Linked DNA regions of Homo sapiens: region 2 is linked to region 1. The links come from fine-mapping of genetic effects on gene expression. A gene starts in region 1. The other region holds a variant in brackets. All regions are shown on one strand. Distances are from middle to middle. Region 1 holds the start of SRMS (src-related kinase lacking C-terminal regulatory tyrosine and N-terminal myristylation sites). Region 2 holds the start of PPDPF (pancreatic progenitor cell differentiation and proliferation factor).

Region 1 (9,578 bases):
TGAACAAATCAGTGAATAAATGAGTGAATTAGTGAGTGACGAATGAACGAGTGAATGAGTGGATGAATGGATGAATGAATGAGTGAATTAGTGAGTGAGGAATGAACGAGTGAATGAGATGAATGGATGAATGAATGAATGAGTGAATTAGTGAGGAATGAATGAACAAGTGAATGAGTGACTGAATGAATGAGTGGGTGAATGACTGAATGAATGAATAAATGGGTGAGTTAGCAAGTGCAGGAGGTGACCAGCATATCTGCTGTTGGGCCCTCAGTGGCGCCGGGTGTGAATCAGGAGCCAGCACTGCCTAGAGACCAACCACCCCAAGGTCAAGGGCCACTGACCTGGTGGGGGACAGAGGCAGGAGGGGCCGCCCCAGGTACCTGACAGTGAGTAGCCCCCGAGGCTGCTCTCGCTGGGCCGGATGAGGAAGGCCCCTGGTTCGTTGGGTGGGGAGAGGAGCAGCTGCTGTGCCTGGGTCCGACTGACCCCGCTAAAGTACCAGCTGCAAACAGCAGGTGCGGCAGTCACCTTGCAGGCCCCTCAGCCAGTGGCCCCACATGCTCTCCTCCGTGTTGCCGGCAGGGCTGAGCCCGGCTGTCCCACCGCCTCAGGGAGAAGGTCCACCCCGTGGACTTTGAGTCCCAGCTCAAGGTCTGCACTGCCTCAGCCCCCAGTGCCGGCCTCATCCTCCTGCTCAGCCCTGAGCATCCTCACGTTGGCCGTGGGCTCTCCGTTAGCCCTGCTGGGCGTGACCTCCAGTTCCCTGTTCATAGTGACCGCCAGCCCCAGCCACAGGTTAACAGTCAGCCCTGGCCATGGGCCATAGGCCTCCAAACTCGGCTTCGCTGAGCCCCTGCACAGACATGGAGCTGACGGCCTGGTGAGCTGCCCGGAAGCACTGCTGGGCTGTCGTGGCTGTACAGGGCCATGGGCATCACCTGGCTGGGCACGGCCCACCTGCCTCAGGCAGTTGGTTAGTGGAGGGGGCCCATGCAAGCTGTGTCCTGAGGAGGCAGCCTAAGCCAGGCTGTGCAGGAGGTCAGGAGGGGCAGCCAGTGGGCGGCTGCAGGGGGGTTGCTGTGCGAACGTTCAAAGCATCCTGCATCCCATGCTGGAGAGTTGTGCCCAGTACAGGACGGCCCTAAGCCCACTGGCGTCTGTTCGCACAGACACCCCCTCGGAAAAGCCAGGTGCAGGTGAGACCTCTCTGAACACGGTGGCAGGGTGGCAGGGAGCTCCCAGGTGCCCACTCCTCAGATGCCCACACACGAGGAGCCCACACCGGGTGTCGGGAGAGGGGCCGGCTGGGTCTCCCCTGTCCAGGTGGGCCGCCCACCAGGTCACATCTACTCATTCCTGGGAGCCGGAGGCATCCTTGGAAGGAAGACAGAAATGCTCCCAGCCCCACCCCGTCTGCATAACTCTGCTGCTGAAGTCCAAGGCGGGGACTCCACACCTGACTCAGCTTCCCACCCTGGAGCCTCCCACTTCCTGGAGCTTCCTGGGACCCGGAGAGGGATGCCTGCCACTCCCCTGCCCCAGGGCACACCCCGTAAGCACCAGGAGGAAGAAGCAGAGTGAGCCGGTGTCAGGGTGGGGCTGAAACCACCTGGGAAGCGGGACTAGGAGAGGACCCGAGGTGGGCCTCAGAGTCAACACAAGATTCGGGGCTGGGGCACGGCCATGCCATCCTGGCAGACTGGGACTGGGCAAGACGGAGGACACAGTCTGGCACCCCTGCCCCGGTGACCTAGGGGGCAATGGGGGCAGCAGGAATAGAAACTGACATGACCAGGGCCGTGGGGCTGGGCTTAAGTTGAAGGGAATGAAGATGGAGACAGGAAGAGGTGTGGGACCAGGGACAGAGAGGCAGCGGCCTGAGGCACTGACTCCATGGACGCTCTGTCCATGGAGCTCCTCCTGCAGCCAGGGCCCCTGCCTTCTGGGGTCTGCTGGCAGGGAGACGCAACCCTCTCACGTGTAAAGGGACTCAGGTCCCTCCCAGCACCGTGGGGTGTGGGGATGAGACACAGGTGTTTCCCCAAAACATCGCCAGCCTCCTCTGAAGCCCACATCAGGGCTTGGGGGTCAGAGGTGAGCCCCTGTGGGATCCTGAGATGCAGAGGATGTGTCTGAGGTCTCTCCCTGGGGCGTGGGGCCAGGTGTCTGGAGCTAATGACACCTGAGTGTGGTTAGTCTTTTAATCTCCAGCCTAGGCAAATAGTCATTAGCTTTGCCTATGGACCGCCCTGCTCCACCACGAGCCCTGCCCTCCAGGAACTGCTGAAGGGGTCTGTCCTCCACACCTGGGGTGACTGTGAGCCCCTTCCCATCACAAAGGCTGCTTGCCCCCCAACCACTGCTCAGGACAAGCGGGGCAGGTGTGGGGTGAGGGCCTGGGGCCCCTCAGAAGGCCCCTTCCTGTGACTCCGGCTTCACCCGCCCATGCAACCCCCAGGACGATGTGTGAGTGCCAAAGGGCCCCCAGGAGGCTGGAAGTGGCCCTGAGCAAGGCTGACCCCGAAGGTCTCCAGGGCTCAGGCCTTGCCCAGCTGGATGCCAGACCAAGGCAGCCGCTCAGAGCAGCCGCACTGGGCATCTGGACTAGGCGCCTCTGCAACCCCTGCTCACCTGCCCTCACCCAGAGCTCCTGGAGCGTGGGCCCCTGTCTCAGCCCCCAGTCCCAGCCCCTGCTCACCTGCCTTCACCCAGAGCTCCTGGAGCGTGGGCCCGTCTCAGCCCCCAGCCCCTGCTCACCTGCCCTCACCCAGAGTTCCTGGAGCATGGGCCCCTGTCTCAGCCCCCAGCCCCCAGCCCCTGCTCACCTGCCGTCACCCAGAGCTCCTGGAGCTCCTGTCATCTGGTGCCTCCCAGCCCCCAGCCCCTGCCCTCCAAGCAGTGACCGATCCATGAACACTGGACTCCCTGTGTGAGGGCGGGAGGGCCTGGCCAGCCAGGCAGGGTCCTGGAGGAACCGCCTGCTGGGTGTCCAGCTGGTGCAGCTGATGCTCCCCCCCACAGGACCTGACCACGCCTGCCGGAGCCTCCTCTCCCTCTCGGCAGCCCACAGCGGACACTGCTGTTTTCCTACCACACCTGCCGGCCCGGGGCCCATCAGCTGTCCCTGAATGAATGCGTGGATGAACGAATGAATGAACAGATAGCCACGGACATGCGATTTCCAACTCAAAATCCTGCCGTTGTTCTGGACTCCCCAGCTGGGGGCGAGGCAGGCTCTGACTCCGAGGCCGAGGTACTCACGGTTGGTCTGAGAGCGTCTCAGGAGAAGCCTTGGCCACGTGGGTGATGGGCACGAGCCCGGCGCTGGGCTGGCCCGAAAGCCTGCGTGCGAAGATGTAGCCGCCCCCCTCTTCGAGGGCACAGAGCCTGTCCCCGCGGCGGACACTCAGCTCCCCGCCACACCGCGCCGTGAAGTCATAGAGCGCAAGGAAGAGCTGAGGGAAGGGGCTGCAAGGCTCGGCGGGGAGCGTGGGCACTGGGTCAGTGTTGGGGTCCAGGGACCCGGGGGTGCCATGGTCCGGCTCGCCGCCCGCCGGCCAGATCTTGTCCCAGAAGAAGGACAGGAAGGCCAGCCGCCTCCTGAGGAACGGCTCCATCCCCCGGGGTCACCACGCTGGGCCCGAGGGCCATGGGAGCCCGCGAGCCCGGAAGAGGAACTGGCAGGGCCGGTGGGACCCGGTGTCCAGCGCTCCCTGCCCTGGCCGTGGGGTGACAGGGGACCCCGGCCCTGCGGTCACTCAGAGGTCCCCTGGATCCAGGAGGCACACGGTTCCCACCGGCGTCCGGGCTGGCGTTGGGGCTGGGTGGGGCGCAGGGCGGACCCCCTGCCTCAGGCACACCGACAGCACCTCCTGTCCTCGACCTCCTTGGCGTCTGGAGTGCACCGTCCCCTCCCCAACCCGACGGCAGAGGGCAGCTTGGGCTGGGGCGGGGGCGGGCTCCAGGAGGGGCCCGAGGAGGGCGGGGTGGGCAGGGCCAGCCTCTCTCCCGCCCTCTGCAAGGCCCAGGCAGGCGGAATGGCTCTGCCCAGTCAGGCCTGGCCCATGCCCAAGGGCACCACAGTCCAACAGCCGCCCGTGCCCACGGAGAAGTGGGGGTTCCACGGAGAAGCGCTGCTGTTCAGCACCTGCAGTGGTTGCCAAGCCTGAGCTGCACTCAGGTGAAAAATTGCCTGCTTATTTAAGTGTTGGCCAGATATTTTAACATCATTAACCCTGCACCAGGTGCCGAGCCTCCGGCCTCTGCAGTAAATTCTGAGGACAGGCGAGTGAGGGGGCTCTCAGCACCCCGGCTTTCATGCAGTAAAACGAGATGCTGATTGCAGGGAGCTCGGCCGCAGGCCAGGCACCCAGATGCCCCATGCTGCCCGATGACCGGCTTCTGAGTCAGTCAATGCCCAGGCCATACCCAAAGGCCACTGCGGGGAAGTGGAGGCTGCGGACGCCTGGCCCCAGTTCAGGGGGATGAGCACACGGAGAAGGGGCGGCGGGTGAGTCCCTGGCTGGGGACCTCCCACCCTCTCCCTGGACAGCGCCAAGCCCCCGCATGCTGAAGCAAACTCTGCCCGCTCAGGTAGGTCCCCAGATCGGGGCAGGACTGGGGGAGCAAATCCCAGCAAAACCCAGCAGCACGGTACAGGGTCCTGAGGCAGGAGGATGGGGTGGTGGCCATCTGCAGTCTCTCTCTCCTCCCACATCCCCTCCGGGTCCTGAGTGGGGTGGGGTGGGGGCCATCTGCAGTCTCTCACTCCTCCCACCTCCCCTCTGGGTCCTGAGGCACGGGGGTGGGGTGAGGCCATCTGCAGTCTCTCACTCCTCCTGCCGGCCTCCCCCAGCAGCCCCTTCCGCACCTGGGTGGCCTTCAGGGAGCCTCACGCCCCTTTCCCACATCTCACACGCATCCATGCCCCCACTTCATGCGTGTGGCTGAATGCATCCCTCCAATAGGCGTGACCAGTGTCCAGCCAATGACAAGCCCCTCGCACCTGCCTGCCCTGGAGTCACAGATGGGCTTCTCAGAAACCTCACGTCTGGGGACTGGTGTGTGCATTGTGGGGTGGCAGTGACACCCGTGGCCTGGCTCTCAGGGCACCCCAGCAGCCAAGCTGTGTCCGGGCTGATAGCCTGGAGCCAGCAGGGGCCCTGGGAGACTGGACATCGCCAGGCTCAGGGCAGGCTCTGCACCAGAGAGGTGCCCTGCTGGGGGTGGTGGGGGGTGTTGAGAAATGTGGAGAATTGTAAATACTACATTGGGGGTGGCCTTCGAGGGGCCCCAGCGCCTTCTCCTCCCGCGCTTCCCCCCGCCGCCCTCTCCTCCCGCCCCCGCCGCCCTCTCCTCCCCCCACCCGCTGCCCGTCTCCTCCCGCCCCCGACGCCGTCTCCTCCCCACAACCCACCCCCGCCGTCTCCTCCCCTCCACTCCCCCCGCCGCCGTCTCCTCCCCACACCCACCGCCGTCTCCTCACGTGCAGGTGAGGCTTTTGCCCACCATTTCTTTTCTTTACTTTTTTTTTGGAAACAGGGTCTCACTCTGTCGCCCAGGCTGGAGTGCAGTGGCAGCCTCGATCTCCTGGGCTCAAGCCGTCCTCCTGCCGGACTACAGGTGTGCGCCACCATGCCCAGATAAATTTTTTATTATTTGTAGAGATGGGCTCTCACTATGTTGCCCAGGCCGGTTTTGAACTCTTGGCCTCAAGCGATCCTCCTGCCTCCCAAAGTGCTGGGACTACAGGTGTGGCTACCAGCTCTCCCAAATCCTCCCTAGGACGTGACTCTTCCCCGCTAGAACGCCAAGGCCGCAGAGCCCCAGGGAGGCCTCCTCAGGCCATGGAAAGCTCCTGTGCCCACCACACCAGGGTCAGATGTTCAGGGCACTGAATGCAGATTCCTCCCAGACACTCCCTGCCCCTTAGAGCCACGGGATCATGGCACAGGACTCAGCACATTCCATGCCCAGCTGGAACCAGAGGCAGGCCTGGCCATCAGGGTTAGGGCCCCATTGGGCCTCTGCCCCGGCGTGTCTCACCCCCACCGCCCCACCTGCCCACAGATCAGCTCCCCACGTCTGCCCCATCTTCCCCCTCCTTGCACCTGCTGCCCTTGCACCGCACACATGCCAGGGTGAGTGTGGTCGGCAGGCAGCCGAGGCCGGCTTTATCCAGCTCCTCCCCGGTGGTCCTCAGAATCCCCGGCCCCGCATGCCCAGCTGCCCTGTCCCGCTGCCCTCCAAGTTGTGCCCGCCCGTCCACCCCTTCCTCACCTCACCCACCAGGCGCAACACAGCCCAGCATAGGGCCCCTGCCAGGTGTCGGTGTCAGCAGCCCCTTCCCTGCCTGCTGTGCCCCCCCCACATGACCTCACCTCCTCCCTCAGCCCTAACCGGGTGGGTGGCACAGAGGGGAGTGAGGAAAGGGGCCTGGGTACAGGATCAGTCTGGACGGGGTCAGGAGTCTGGGGCTTGGCCGGGTGAGGCGGCTCACTCCTGTAATACCAGCATCTGGGGAGGCCAAGCAGGAGGATCGCTTAAGCCCAAGGGTTCAAGACCAGCCTGGGCAACATAGTGAGACCCCCATCTCTATTTTTTTAAAAAAAGAAAAGGCTAGGCACGGTGGCTGACACCAGTAATCCCAGCACTTTGGGAGGCCAAGGCGGGTGCATCACCTGAGGTCAGGAGTTCAAGACCAGCCTGGGCAACATGGTGAAACCCCGTCTCCACTAAAATACAAAAGTTAGTCAGGCATGATGGCGGGCACCTGTAATCCCAGCTACTCGGGAGGCTGAGACGGGAGAATCACTTGAATCTGGGAGACAGTGGTTGCAGTGAGCTGAGATCGTCGCGCCACCGTACTCCAGCCTGGGCGGCTGAGCAAGACTCCATCTCAAAAAAATAAAAATGACCAGGGCTGGAATCCTGCTGTCAGACTCACTGTCCACATGACCTTGGGCATACAGTGCTGAACCTCCCTGTGCCTCAGTTTCCCCATCTGTAAGAGCACTGAGCTTACAATGGCAGTGAGGACACAGACCAGGGGGATGGGGTGCAGGGCCCTTCCTGGTGTTCAGATGGAGGCTTGTGGCAGGAGCTCTGCCACATCAGGCCACCCCCCATCCGGGTTTATGTGTCTGGAGGGCACAGCTCTGAGGGTCTCAGTGGTCAGCGTGCATTCTCTCCCCCAAGACTGGCCCCACTACCCCCAGGCTTCACCATCCTCAGGGCCCAGGGAAGAGAGCTTGTCCCCACCAGGGACAACAGATCCAAAGTGTTCACTGCCCGTGCCCTGGTGGCCACAAACAGGGTTGAGCAAGACTGAGCACAAACTGGCCCCTGGTGCCCAGCAGTGAACAGGAGTGACTGTTGACCCTGCACAGAGGGGACTATGCTGAGCGCAAGAAGCCAGTCCCAAGGCTGCATACTGAAAGCCTGCACTGATAGGACATTCTTGAAATGACCAGACAGAGCCGGAGAGATGAGTGGTTGCAGGGCTAGGGAGAGGTGGGAGGGAGCAGCGTGGCTGTAAAGAACATGTCAGGGTCCCGTGGGGGTGGCACTGCCTTGCGTCTGTATCGACGTCAAGGTCCTGGCGTGATTCTGCACTGCAGTCCTGCAAGATGCTACCACTGGGGATGCTGGATAGAGGGTAACGGGACCTCTGTGTTACTTCTTACAACTGCAGATGAATCTATACTTATCTTAAAAGTAAAAGTTTAACTTTATTATTATTATTATTATTTTCGAGACAGGCCTCTGTCTTATTGCACCCAGGCTGGAGTGCAGTGGCACAATCTCGGCTCACTGCAACCTCCACCTCCTGGGTTCAAGCGATTCTCCTGCCTCAGCCTCCTGAGTAGCTGGGACTACAGGCGCCCACCACCACGTCCAGCTAATTTTTTTTTTTTTTTTGAGACAGAGTCTCGCTCTGTCGCCCAGGCTGGAGTGCAGTGGCGTGATCTCGGCTCACTGCAAGCTCCACCTTCCAGGTTCACGCCATTCTCCTGCCTCAGTCTCCCGAGTAGCTGGGACTACAGGCGCCTGCCACCACTCCCAGCTAGTGTTTTGTATTTTTAGTAGAGACGGGGTTTCACCATGGTCTCGATCACGTCCAGCTAATTTTTGTATTGTTAGTAGAGACTGGGTCTTACTATGTTGGCCAGGCTGGTCTTGAACTCCTGACCTCAGGTGATCTGCTTGCCTCAGCCTCCCGAAGTGCTGGGATTATAGGCGTGAGCCACTGCGCCCAGCCATTATTATTCTTTTTAGAGACACAGGGTCTCCCTCTGTCACCCAGGCTGGAGTGCAGTGGCACCATCTTGGCTCACTGCAGCCTCATCCTCCCAGGCTCAGGTGATCCTCCGGCCTCAGCTTTCCAAGTAGCTGAGACCACAGGTGCACACCACCACACCCAGCTAATTTTTCAAATTATTTGTAGAGACAGGGGTCTCCCTGTGTTGCCGAGGCTGGTCTCAAACTTCTGGCCTCAAGGGATCCTCTCACCTTGGCCTCTCAAAGTGCTGAGGTTATGGGCCTGCGCCACCGAGCCTGGCCAAAAGTTTAACTTTAAAAAATTAGATTAGAAATCAGAAATTGAAAGAAAGGGGGTAGGGTGGAGCCCAGGAGAGGGGAGACATCCAGGACCTGCCTGGCCCCAAAAGAGAAGGGGAGGCTGCTCTGCCCCCACCCCGCTTCTCCGTCAGTGGGCTGCAGGGCCGGGGGTAAGGGGTCTAACTCCTACTGCTTCCCAACCCTCCGCGTCAGACAGCACCCCCTTCTCCAAACAACCCCGGCTTTGTCCCCTGGAGCCCTAAATAACAATAACAATAGCTGGCATTTATTGAGTTCCAGCCCAGGCAGGGAGGGCAGGGCAGAAACAGCACCCAACAGGACTGGGTGCAAGGCTCACACCTGTAATCCGGAAGGATCAGAAAGACCCAGGTGGGAGGATCACTTGAGCCCCGGGGGTGAAGACTGCCGCATGGGTGACAGAGCAAGACGCTATCTCAAAAAAAAAACCACCCACATCCACCCACTTCCTGCCAGGCCTAACCCCTGGGGCCTCCATGCACCAAGGGAAAGCTCTTCCAGGGTGGGGTCACCGGGAGGAGGGGGGAGGCTCAAGTTACAGAACAGCCTGGTAGGGGCTCAAAGACGCCCATCCTGGAAGAGGCCCCAGCACTGACCTCCGTGGGGGTGGAGATGAGGAGGATGGAAAGGGTGTCTTCCTCCAGCATCTTCCTGAAGGTGAAGGAGGGGCACCTTGGGGTGTCTAAGATTGTGACCCCAGGAGACCCCCAGCTAGCTGGGGTGTGCTGTGGGGGAACGGGGGGATCCCAGAGGCCCTGAGCCCAACTGAACAGATACAGACGGGACCAGATGGCCTCAGAGCTCCCCTGCGGGGCTCCCTGGAGCTATGGAGACCCCATTTATCCAGAGTCAGGTCGGTGCCTGAGCTTGGGCAGCCCCAGGTGGAAGGAGCCCATGGTGGGAGGAGCCTGTAGTGGGAGGAGCCTGTAGTGGGAGGAGCCTATGATGGGAGGGGCCGTGGTGGGGGGAGCCCG
Region 2 (11,581 bases), 25 kb before region 1:
GAACTTTCGCTGAGCACCTGCCCCGTGCCAGATACTGGTCCAAGCACCTGCAGGAAGCATCTTACCCTCAAGGTGGCCACAGGAGTTAGCTATGCCCGTCTCACGCGCAGGGACACTGAGGAACAGGCAGCCTTGGCTGCTGCCCCCCGGACTTCACCTGCCACATCAGGTGCCGCCGGCATAGCAGGCCTTCATCAAATATTAGTCAGCACTTCTGTTTTCTTCTGCAGGTGGTGACACCATCTAAGAGGCACTGGCCAGAGAGCTGGGCAGCAGCTGCCACCTGGGATGAAGATGGGCAGAGCTGGGCCACCAGGGCCGTGGTGTGAACACACCACTCTCCCTCCAGGGGCCGACCAACGAGCTCCGGGGGTCCAACCCTGGCTCCGGCTTTGGCAGAACTCTCACCTCGCCCCCAGACACCTGTGGGAGGAGCACAGTGCAGGTGGCGACAGCTCCCAGGGGCCGAGCAAGGCTGTGAGCCTCCGCACTAGGGGCCTCTCCCATCTAGTCCTCCCCACACGCTGGGGTTAACGCATTCTTAACATATGTATGTTAACCCAACCATAACAAGGTGCCACCATCGTCCCGTCCACAAGGGAGGAGACAGTGGCTACAGGGTGGCAGGCAGCCCTTACAAGTGGGACTGGAAGCCTTTCCCTCCCGCCCTGTGGGAAGCCTGTGGCCGTCCCCGCCCTCGTCCAGCTGTGCCCTGTCCTCTCCAGCTGACCGTCCCCGTCAATCTCATCCCTGCCAATGATCACATCCTAGCAGCAACCGGGCCTGAACCGGCCTGCTATAGCTTGCGCACAATGCATCTTCCGTCCGCTTAGCTTTTCTGCCCCCATTTCCTACAGCCGGGGAGGCTCGGGTGCAGTGTCTCTCCTCGCTCCTGCTTCCTGACCCAGAGCCCAGACCTGGGACTTCCCAAAAGCCCCCAGACACACCAAGGGCACCGCCGAACCCCTCAGAGCCAAGGGAGAGGAGAGCTAGCGTTCCCTGAGCTCACCTTGCCTGGTGGCACGGGTCCCCTCTGTCTGCGGCCACTGTCATGGGAGAAGCCAGGCTCAGCCACTGGCAAGAGCAGGCAGCCAGCAAGAGGTGGATGTGGGTCCAAGCCCAGGCCACACGGCTCCCAGCAAGAGCCATGGCCAGGGGCCAGTCGGCAGCCCCTCTGCCCGACAAGGATGTGGGCCAGCGTCGTCTGCACTTCAGAGGAGACGAGAACCAGGAGGCGGCCCCCGAGGGCATCCCGCGGGTCCTCACGGAGGCTGCGTTCTCCCACCTTGGCCAGGATGCCCCGGGAACACCATGCAGCGTCTCTGAGGCTTCCTGTGCAGAGGGGCTCACAGAGCCCCCACCGGCCTGGTTTAGTAAATGCAGTTTTTACCTTTTCACTTTAAAGGAAAATGAAAATTCCTCCTTTCAGACGCTCTGTGACTGATGTTGACCGGTGTTGACTGGTGAGGTTGAGAATGAGGTGAGCTGGGTCAGGCCAGCCTAGAGGGAAGCGGGTGACCTGGAAGGCCGTGCTGTCAGGCGTGGTCGGCAGTCGGCCCCACGGCTCCTTCAGGGTGGGCCTGGACCACAGACACCTCACCAGGGTCTCCCGTCCCTGGGCGGCTGCATATGGGTCCAAGCAAGCCACAAAGGCTGTGCCAGCCAAGCCCAACGCAGGCCGCCCCTACAGTCCCTGCCCGGCCCTGCACCCTCCCCACCCCTTCCCAGGTGCTGATCACCAGTACTCACTCTGCACCCCAAACCCCAAACCCCGTCTCAGCGTCTGCCCCTGAGGACCCTCTGAGTGTCAACCCAACTGACCCGTCTGCCTCATCAGTGACCCCTCGGGGCTGCACACCTCTCCCATCGCAGGTCCTGGCACTGCTCTCCGGCACCGAGCTCCCCCTCCCAGGTGGGGCTCAGGCGGTTCCCTGCCCTCCGTCCTTAGACCTCAGCTGAAACCTGAGCTCTCCCCACCACCCGCCCCCGCCAGCCTCTGCACTGCTCCCCACGGGAAGGCCGTTCTCCCTTGGTTTACCGTTCCCTGCGCTTGGCTCGGCCATGTGCACATAGTAGGTGCTTACCACACTCGTGCAATGAACACACAGAGCGGTGCAGGGCCCAGGACAGCGCCTTCCCCACGTGCTCAGGGGGCACAAGGGCGTCCCTCCAAGTCTTGCTCAGGGGCCTCCCAGGGTCCCTGCCCAGCTGTGGGTCCTCACTGAGCACCCGGCGAGGACAGAGTACGGCATCCGTTGGCCTCGATCTCCGGAACAACACGGGCACACGGCCGTCCCAGCCAGCAACGAGAGCCACGAAACAAATCCACCCGGGCTGACTCCCGAAGCCCTCGGACTGTTCCGCCCCACGGACCTCCCGGACCCTCTCTTCCACGGGGAAGACACCGCCCAGCCAGGACCGGGTGTATAAAGAAACGGGATTTCCGTAGGGGCAGGCCGATTTCCCCTGCGGGGCCGAGGGAGGTGTGGGGAGGATTCTGCGCTGGGGGGAGGAGGAGAGGGAGGACGCCTTTCTGCCTGGGAAGGGAAAACGCGCCCCCTCCTGATTGGCATGGCGGGCCGTCCCCCGGGCCCCAGGGCCCTGCCGGGAACGCTCTGGGCTCCCCAAACATGGGGTCTCCGAGCAGTGGGGCCCAGCCTCTGCCTCCGGCGACTGGAGACTCACCTCACCCGCCCAAATCCGCCCCGCTCTCCGACTGGGCCCCGCCTCCCACTGCCCCGCCATCCGCCCACCCTTTCACCGCCCCCTGCGGGCAGCAGGCGCGTCCTGGGGCTGGGCAACCGGGGTGCAGGTTCCGGAGCTGCCAGAGCTGTGAGGGGGACTCGGGAGAGATCCAGGTTCCTCTGGCTGCGAAGTCCCTGGAGGCCGGGCCGGAGGGCTCCGCGCACGTAGCACTTTTTGGCCCGCCCGGCGCCCCCGTCGCCTCCACAAGGGCTGAAGAGGACGGGCGGGCTGGACCAGGCGGGGCTCCGAGACGCGTCCGAGACGGGGGCCTGGGCCCGGGAGAGGGGCGGGGGCTGGGCTCCCGGACCCGGGCGCGGGGCCTTTTAACCCCTGCAGACCCAGGACCGGCCGGGCCGCCCCAAGACGAACGCCGCAGGGCTGGGCTCAGCCCAAGCCAGACGGCGAGAGTCGCACCGAGGTGGAAGCTGGGGGCGCGGCCTCGCCGGGGCCAGGAAAGGGGCGGGGCCGGGTGGGGCCCGGGGAGGAGCCTGTGCGCCCCGCCCTCCGTGACGCGCCGCGGCCCCCGCGCATATAAGTGGGCGCGTCCGCGCGTGCGCACCCCGCGCGCGCCTCTCTGTCGTGGCGCGGCTTCCCGCGGTCTTCTCTGCAAATGGGCTCCGTGGCCTAGCGCCCCCGTCCCCGCCACCCGTGATCGTGCGCCGAGGCCCGCGAGGGGTCGCCGCCCAGGTGAGGGGCGCCGCGCGCGGGTGGGACGAGCAGGCCCGAGGGGCGGGGGGCGAGGGGCGGGGCTGGGCCGGGGGCTCCTCTCCTCTCCGCCTGGCGAGCGCTGGGCTCGGGGTCCCCGGCGGGCTCCTCTCGGGTCGGGCGGGTTGGGACGGCGCCCACCAGGTTCCCGACGTCTGGGCCGGGGCCCCGCGCACAAAGCGCCTTTGTTCCACCCGCTCGGCCGGTTTGGGCTGGTTGGAGCCGCCCGCGCCCCGCGCGGCGAAGGCGGTGCCGGGAGCTGGGGAGCCCCGCCTCGGTAAATAACCCAGCGCGGCGGCTCCACCCGCTGGGGAGCGCCCTTCATGACGGAAGGCCGCTGACCCGAGGGGCTCCTCCACCCCCATGCGCAGATCCCACCAGCCAGCAAGCTAAAGCATGGCGGCCATCCCCTCCAGCGGCTCGCTCGTGGCCACCCACGACTACTACCGGCGTGAGTAGCCCCTGCCCCCCATCCACGCGGATGCTCTGCTGGCGCCAGTGCCGGCCCCGTGCAGGCTGCGGAACCAGCGCTCGGCCTGAAGGCCGGTGGGCTGGGGGGCTCCGCGCCCCGCGTTGCTGACGGGACCTCTCCTCTCCAGGCCGCCTGGGTTCCACTTCCAGCAACAGCTCCTGCAGCAGTACCGAGTGCCCCGGGGAAGCCATTCCCCACCCCCCAGGTGAGTGCAGGATCGCCCCTTTCTCCCCCCGCTCCTCCAGGAGCTGGCAGCATCAAGACCCCACTTCGCTTCTCTCAGGTCTCCCCAAGGCTGACCCGGGTCATTGGTGGGCCAGCTTCTTTTTCGGGAAGTCCACCCTCCCGTTCATGGCCACGGTGTTGGAGTCCGCAGAGCACTCGGAACCTCCCCAGGCCTCCAGCAGCATGACCGCCTGTGGCCTGGCTCGGGACGCCCCGAGGAAGCAGCCCGGCGGTCAGTCCAGCACAGCCAGCGCTGGGCCCCCGTCCTGACCTGAGCGGTTACCACCAGCCCCAGGCCTGCGGAGGCGCTAGTCCACCAGAGCCCCTCCCCGCCCCTCTCCCCACTCCGCATCCCTCGCCCCCCTCCCCACCTCCCACCCCCCACCCTGTAAACTAGGCGGCTGCAGCAAGCAGACCTTCGCATCAACACAGCAGACACCAAAAACCAGTGAGAGCCCCGCTCTCTACCGCCCGGCCCCAGCACTCGCTAGCTTTCCTGACACCTGGAACTGTGCACCTGGCACCAAGCGGAAAATAAACTCCAAGCAGCCAGT[AG/A]CCCCGATGGTGTGTGCCTGAGCTGTGTGGCCCGAGGTTCCATTTGAGTGTGAGAAATGGCTGAATCCCTCCCGACCTCACTGCCTTGTGGGGGCTGGCCCTGCTCCCAGGCCTTTCTGGGCCTCCTCACGCTGTGAGGCTGTTGCTGGGGCTGATAAGGGTGGGGTTCACTGCTGCTTCTGGAGAGCCTTGGACAGCAGGCAGTCCTGGAGCTGGACAAGCAGGACCCAGGGCAGCCACTGAGGTGGGCCCCCGTGCCACCTTTAGCGGGGGGAAAGGGAGCAGGGAGGGCTGGTCCTCTGAGGGATTCAGGCCCCTTACCCGAGGGCCTGCGGGGCGGGGAGTAGCCTCTGGCTGTGAGCTGGGAAGCCCTCACTCTGGAGGGACCTGGTTCCTGCTGGTAGGTGTCTCCCAAGGGCCTCCCATAGGGGTGTTGCCCCAAGACAGGCTGAGGGGTAGGGGCTGCAGGCACCGTGGAGGGGTCTTCCTGCCACAGGCAGCCCAGCTTAAAGTGAGGGTGGCTGCATCATTCTGGCCTGGTATAGGCATGGAGTGTTGGAGTCCGGGAGTGCTGCAGGCTGGCAGGGATGGGGGTCCACACACAGGAGTGCATGGGCTGTGAGCTTAGTAGACTCCTTCATAACCAAGGTGGGTGGTGTCCCCACACCTCTGCCAGGAGCCTACAGGGATTGACTCAGTTCTGTTGAGAGGCAGCTTAGTGAGCAGGTGGGAGTCAGTGAGATAGCTGGAGACTTGATGTGTGGCCAGGGACATGGTGAGAGGAGGGGCCTCCGTGGGGTGGGAAAGGGTGGGGTTCAGTGGTGGGGGAGGGACTCTGGGGAGGGGTGGGGATCAGTGGGTGCTCCCTGCCTGGTACCCTGTTCCACTGCACTATAAATAGCTGTACTAGTTGGTGGGAAGCTGGTGGGAAGGCATCTGGCTTGTGGCCTCTGATGGCTGAGCCTTTGTCCTGTCCACAGGGTGGAGGCAGCCTCACCCAGCCATCCAAGCCGGTGGTCAGTGCTGAGGCTGGGTGGGGGAGCCTCCGATGGACCCAGGAGTGGGAGGCTGCTCCTAATGGCAGTTGAGCCCCCTGCAGCCTTTTGCAGTGTCCAGATGAAGCCCACAGAGACCCTCCTCCATGTACACACAGCTGTGAGGGTAGCAGGAGTTGGTGTTGAAGGGAGAGCCCAGCCACGCTCAGGTCCCCACCACACATGGCCTGGGGGGGCTCCGCCCTTGGCTGAGCTGGAGGGCTTGGGGTCAGGACCAAGGGTGGGTCCACCCTGCTTGGAAAGAAGCTGTCCTGGCTTTTGGAGTCAGCGGGGGAGGGGCACTGCCCGGGAGCTGGTGTCTTGTTGGAAGGGGCAGCTGGGAGTAGGGAGCAGCCGAGCCACAGGCTGCCCGCGGCATCGTCCCCTGCCTCGGGTCAGGGGGCCCCTTGACTGGAGGACCTCACAACCCTGGGGGTGTCCATGGCCTGTTCCTGGGAGCTGCACCCTCATCAGATTCTCTGTAGGGGGAGAAGTCATATCTTTTCCTCACCCATCACAAGCTTCATGGCTGAGACCTGTTAGAAACAAAATGCTTCCTCGGTGCCACAAAGAAATAGCACTCAAACATTAATTTTCTCAGCAAGGCAATTTTTACTTCTATAGAAGGGTGCGACTCGCGGATGGAGCAATGGTGAGAGCGCACCTGGACAAGGGAGGGGAAGGGGTTCTTATTCCTGACACAGGTAGCCTCTACGGCTGTGTCATTCCCCTGTTGGGTGGGGTTGGACTGCACACTCTAAGGTAATTCTGATTGACTATTTTAAAGAGAGCAGGGGTGTGACCCAGAGTGGTGGGGTGAGTAGTTTGGCAGGAAGGACAGGAACAGGTAGCTAAAGATGACTTAGGTCAGAGCAGGTGACCAGGGGCCGGGTGCGATGGCTCACGCCTGTAATCCCAGCACTTTGGGAGGCCGAGGCGGGTGGATCATGAGGTCAGGAGATCGAGACCATCTTGGCAAACGTGGTGAAACCCCGTCTCTACTAAAAATACAAAAAAAATTAGCCAGGCGTGGTGGCGGGCACCTGTAGTCCCAGCTACTCGGGAGGCTGAGGCAGGAGAATGGCAGGAACCCGGGGGGCGGAGCTTGCAGTGAGCGGACATCGCACCACTGCACTCCAGCCTGGGCAACAGAGCGAGACTCCATCTCAAAAAAAAAAAAAAAAAAAAACAGGTACCAGGATGAGTCAGGACGGAGCAGGTGACCAGGGGAACAGATGTGAACTATTGATTAAAACTGGTGGAAAAGGTTGTTTACTGAAACTATGCACGAGTTAAATGGAGAACAAAGAACTGAACATACATGCTGAGTCCTCTAAGAGAAATCTAGAACTCACTGTATCCAACAGACCCTTGAACAAAAGACAGATTAAACTGGGCGCAGTGGCTCACGCCTATATTCCCAACACTTTGGGAGGCTGAGGCAGGTGGATCACTAGAAGCCGGGACTTCAAGTCCAGCTTGGTCAACATGGCAACCAACACGGCAAAACCCTGTTTCTATCAAAAACAAAAAAATTAGCCAGACGTGGCGGTGCATGCCTGGAGTCCCAGCTACTGGGGAGGCTGAGATGGGAGGATCCCCTGAGCCCGGGAGGCGGAGGCTGCGGTGAGCCAAGATTGCGCTACTGCACTCCAGCCTGGGCGTCAGAGAGCAAGACTCTGTCTTAAAAAAAAAAAAGAAAAAGCATACAAACATTTAATGCGAGTTCCATGTGATGTGGGCCCCTTCAAAACAAAGACCAAAGAAATGGTCTATTTCACAGCGGAGCAGGAGTGAGCGGAGGATGGAAGGGTGTGATCAAGGCCCGACTTGACTCTGACATCCCTTTCCTCTGGTTAGGGGGCGGGACACCACGTGAGGGTCTGCAGGGAGAGGGTCTGGGAGTGGCCTTCCTGGGTTTTATGGCCTGCTTCAGGGAAGAAAGGCAGGGAGGTTAGAATGGCCTCAACGGTGAAATATTTATCTTTTTCTTCCTCCCTAATCCCAGAATTCAGAAACTGTTAGTGGGTTTGCATAAGTTCAATGAGAATCTGTTCTTGTAATAGGGCACAATTGAAAACATTGGTTATATTACCAAGGCTTTGACTGGAATGTCCTATTTTCAGATACGACTAAAGGAGTTAGGGTTGACTGCATGGTCCAATAAAGCCCCTTGGAAAAAAGCTGGCCTGGTACCTCACATACGTGGTTCCCTTACAGATGAGTAAAGAATGTCAATTCCTGGCAGGTCCCAGAATCTTAAGATACCTTAGGGACCTCAAGAAGAGAGGAATTCCCCTAAATCTGTACTTATTGCAGGCAAAGTCTGATGGCAAGTCTTTGCGATGGCTTCCTAGCCTCAAGAGGCTTTTAAAAGCCCAATCTCAGATTCCTTATAAAAAGTTCCAGTAGGCCAGGCACAGTGGCTCACACCTGTAATCCCAGCACTTTGGGAGGCCACGGTGGGCAGATCACGAGGTCAGGGGATCGAGACCATCCTGGCTAACACGGTGAAACCCCGTCTCTACTAAAAATAAAAAAATTAGCCGGGCATGGTGGCGGGTGCCTGTAGTCCCAGCTATGCGGGAGGCTGAGGCAGAAGAATGGCATGAACCCGGGAGACGGAGCTTGCAGTGAGCCGAGATCGCGCCACTGCACTCCAGCCTGGGCGACAGAGCAAGACTCCGTCTCAGGAAAAAAAAAAAAAAAAGTTCCAGTAAAGCAAATTTTAAAAGAGCCCACGTGTCCAGGTGTACCTATAATCCCAGCACTTTGGGAGCCTGAGATGGGAGGTTTGCTTGAGCCCAGGAGTTCAGGACTGGCCTGGGCAACATAGTGGGGCTCCCTCTCTACTAAAATACAAATAAATTAGCCAGGTGTGGTGTCACATGCCTGTCGTCCCAGCTACTCTGGAGGGTGGGGCTGGAAGGTGGCTTGAGCCCAGGAGGTCAAGGCAGCAGTGAACCATGATGGTACCACTGCACTCCAGCCTCGGTGACAGGGTGAGGCCCTGTTGGAAAACAAAAATGAGGAAGAACCTATGTGGTTAATCACTATTCTTGTTCCACTTACATAAATAACCACACCAGGTTTAATGAGGCCAAACTTACTCTGCAATCAAATCAATCTTTTATTATCTTTGATAGAAATGTGTTAATTTGAAAACAATCCTACTTTTATTATCTTTGATAGAAATGCGTTAATTTGCAGCCGGTCACGGTGGCTCACACCTGTAATCCCAGCACTTTGGGAAGCCGAGGTGGGCGGATCACCTGAGGTCAGGAGTTCGAGACCAGCCTGGCCAACATGGCAAAACCCTATCTCTACTAAAAATACAAAAATTAGTCGGGCGTGGTAGCAGGCACCTGTAATCCCAGAGACTTGGGAGGCTGAGGCAGGAGAATCACTTGAACCCGAGAGGCAGAGGTTGCAGTGAGCCAATATTGCGCCATTGCACTCCAGCCTGGGCGACAGAGCGAGACTCCATCTCAAAAAAAAAAAGGAAGAAGGAAATTTGTTGGCTGGGTGCGGTGGCTCACACCTGTAATCCCAGCATTTTGGGAGGCCGAGGTGGGTGGATCACCTGAGGTCGGGAGTTCGAGACCAACCTGACCAACGTGAAGAAACCCCATCTCTACTGAAAGTACAAAAATTAGCTGGGCGTGGTGGCGCATGCCTGTAATCCCAGCTACTCGGGAGGCTGAGGCAGGAGAATCACTTGAACCCGGGAGGCAGAGGTTGCCGTGAGCCGAGATCAAGCCATTGCACTCCAGCCTGTGCAATAAGAGCGAAACTCTATCTCAAAAAAAAAAAAAGAAAAAGAAATTTGTTGACTGTAGAGAGAAAAATTATGTTTCAAAATAAAACTCGTGCCCCCACTATTAGACTCTAGCCCGGTTTGCTGTCTGGAGGTTTTGTCGCCCACCTGTGGTCCGGACCGGGTCCTGAACTTCAGTTTCCTCCAATATTTGCCTACAGCTCACCAAACCACTCTTTCCAATTTTTTCTTCCACCATTCCTCATGGAGTCACTGAAAATTAAAACTGCTCTTTTCCCAAAGCCCTGTAAGCTGAAGCTGCCCCACTTGATACAGACTTCAGAGAAATTTCCCCAGCAACTCTCGTACAGACGGCTTTCGTGCCCAGGCTGGGCGCAGCAGCTCAGGCCTGTAGTCCCGAGGCAGGAGGATTGCTAGAGCCCAGGAGTTCGAGACCAGCCTGGGCAACATAGCAAGACCCTGAATCTCCTAAAAAAAAAAAAATTTAAAATTAGCCAGGTGTGGTGGTGCATTCCTGTAGTCCCAACTATTCAGGAGGCTGAGGCGGGAGGATCACTTGAGCCTGGGAATTCAAGGCTGCAATGAGCTGTGGTCACGCCACTGCGCTCCAGCCTGGGTGACAGAGCAAGACCCTGTCTTCAAAAACAAAAACAGAAACAAAAAACGTTTTCTTACATCTGGAAAACAAAATATTAAAGAACCGTAATGCTTCAGACAAAAGTCATTAAACAGTAAACATCCTCGTCAGTTCATTCATTCCCATGTCATTAATTCTTGTTCTGGTTGATCCTGGGACAGAACTTTCATGGACCTGCCAGGTCCCTCCTTCGAGTTCTGGAAATTTGCACCCAATCCAAGGCTATGACCTGAACCAGAAACCTGTGCTCCAGAGCACCTGTCAGAATCCTTCCCAGGAATCTCTTTGAAGAATAAACAATTTGGGACTAGCTGATTGCAAAGCTTTCAGAAAAAATCAAAGTAAGATAATAACTGTGAATGACCGAAGACTTAAGATAGCCATGGCTCAGGATCTGATGAGAGTTTATTATATTCGTGACACGGTTGGCAAGGAAACTTGGTTATTTCTGTGGCATGCAGCATTTTAATGTAATAACCAAAATTATGACTGATAACATTGCACCAGATTTCTAGGAATAGCATGTGAGATAGGATATATATCATAGGATAACGTATCAGATTTCTAGGAATTTTATAGAGTTTCTGCAACATTCATATCAAAACCAAACCCGTAAATAGAACCTCCAGAAGACTTAGTGTGACTTACTATTTCACACGCTTTCCATCTCATGTAGCACATCGGATAAGCCTGATTAGTCTGACATCTGTCTTTCACAAGGCAGAAGACAAATCCTTTTGAGAAATCCTAGTACCTTTCCAGAAACTCCCAAAATTATTTTTCTTTCTTTCTTTTTTTTTTTTTTTTTTTTGAGATGGAGTCTCGCTCTGTCGCCCAGGCTGGAGTGCAGTGGCGCGATCTCGGCTCACTGCAAGCTCCACCTCCCGGGTTCACACCAGTCTGCTGCCTCAGCCTCCCACGTAGCTGGGACTACAGGCGCCCACCCCCACCACCACACCCAGCTAATTTTTTGTATTTTTTAGTAGAGACGGGGTTTCACCGTGTTAGCCAGGATGGTGTCGATCTCCTGACCTCGTGATCCACCTGCCTCAGCCTCCCAAAGTGCTGGGATTACAGGCATGAGCCACCGTGCCCCGCCTATTCTTCTTTTAAACCAAAAAAACTTTCAGGTGAGTCAAAACCAAAACCAATAAGCTTTTTATGACTTAACCATGGATGAAAGAGACACCTTCAAAATCAGGTGCAAAGGAGGCAGCCCCCCCAGCCCGGAACCACCCCACAGACAGTAGAGAAGGGCCCTTGTCAGCGCAGGAGTGAGGGGCGCTTTCCAGCACTGACCCAGCGACAAAGGTGAAGGTGGGAAAAGCCCCTTGTGGACGTGGACGGTGAAACTGAGCTGGCGCCTCGGGCAGTGATGCTTGGGCTGGCAGAGACCAGGGAGAGAGTTCTCACTGGTCATAAGGCCAAGC

What was found. PIP is the estimated chance that this variant, and not a neighbour inherited with it, causes the effect.
Region 2: its variant is fine-mapped to the expression of SRMS in tibial nerve (GTEx, PIP above 0.99). The same link has a PIP of 0.9 or more in cerebellum.

Annotation. Positions count from the first base shown.
Region 1 is chr20:63,543,841-63,553,418 of GRCh38, forward strand. It overlaps SRMS (src-related kinase lacking C-terminal regulatory tyrosine and N-terminal myristylation sites), which reads right to left and starts at 3,909. Exons shown (of 8, transcript NM_080823.4): 1 at 3,268-3,909; 2 at 387-508. The coding sequence starts at 3,623. It also overlaps a transcript of FNDC11 not described here. RefSeq lists enhancers at 256-809, 2,982-3,623, 9,131-9,220, 9,516-9,578 and a silencer at 9,501-9,560.
Region 2 is chr20:63,517,463-63,529,043 of GRCh38, forward strand. PPDPF (pancreatic progenitor cell differentiation and proliferation factor) reads left to right here and starts at 3,303. Exons shown (of 4, transcript NM_024299.4): 1 at 3,303-3,432; 2 at 3,822-3,901; 3 at 4,050-4,127; 4 at 4,206-4,744. The coding sequence starts at 3,847. The coding sequence ends at 4,417. It overlaps LOC102723814 (a long non-coding RNA gene), which reads right to left and starts at 3,211. Exons shown (of 2, transcript XR_430332.4): 1 at 1,010-3,211; 2 at 1-423. It overlaps PTK6 (protein tyrosine kinase 6), which reads right to left. Exons shown (of 8, transcript NM_005975.4): 8 at 10,539-11,581. RefSeq lists enhancers at 682-1,559, 1,560-2,436, 2,437-3,313 and silencers at 2,586-2,835, 2,896-3,445, 3,556-3,755. The variant AG/A (reference allele first, on the strand shown) is at 4,702.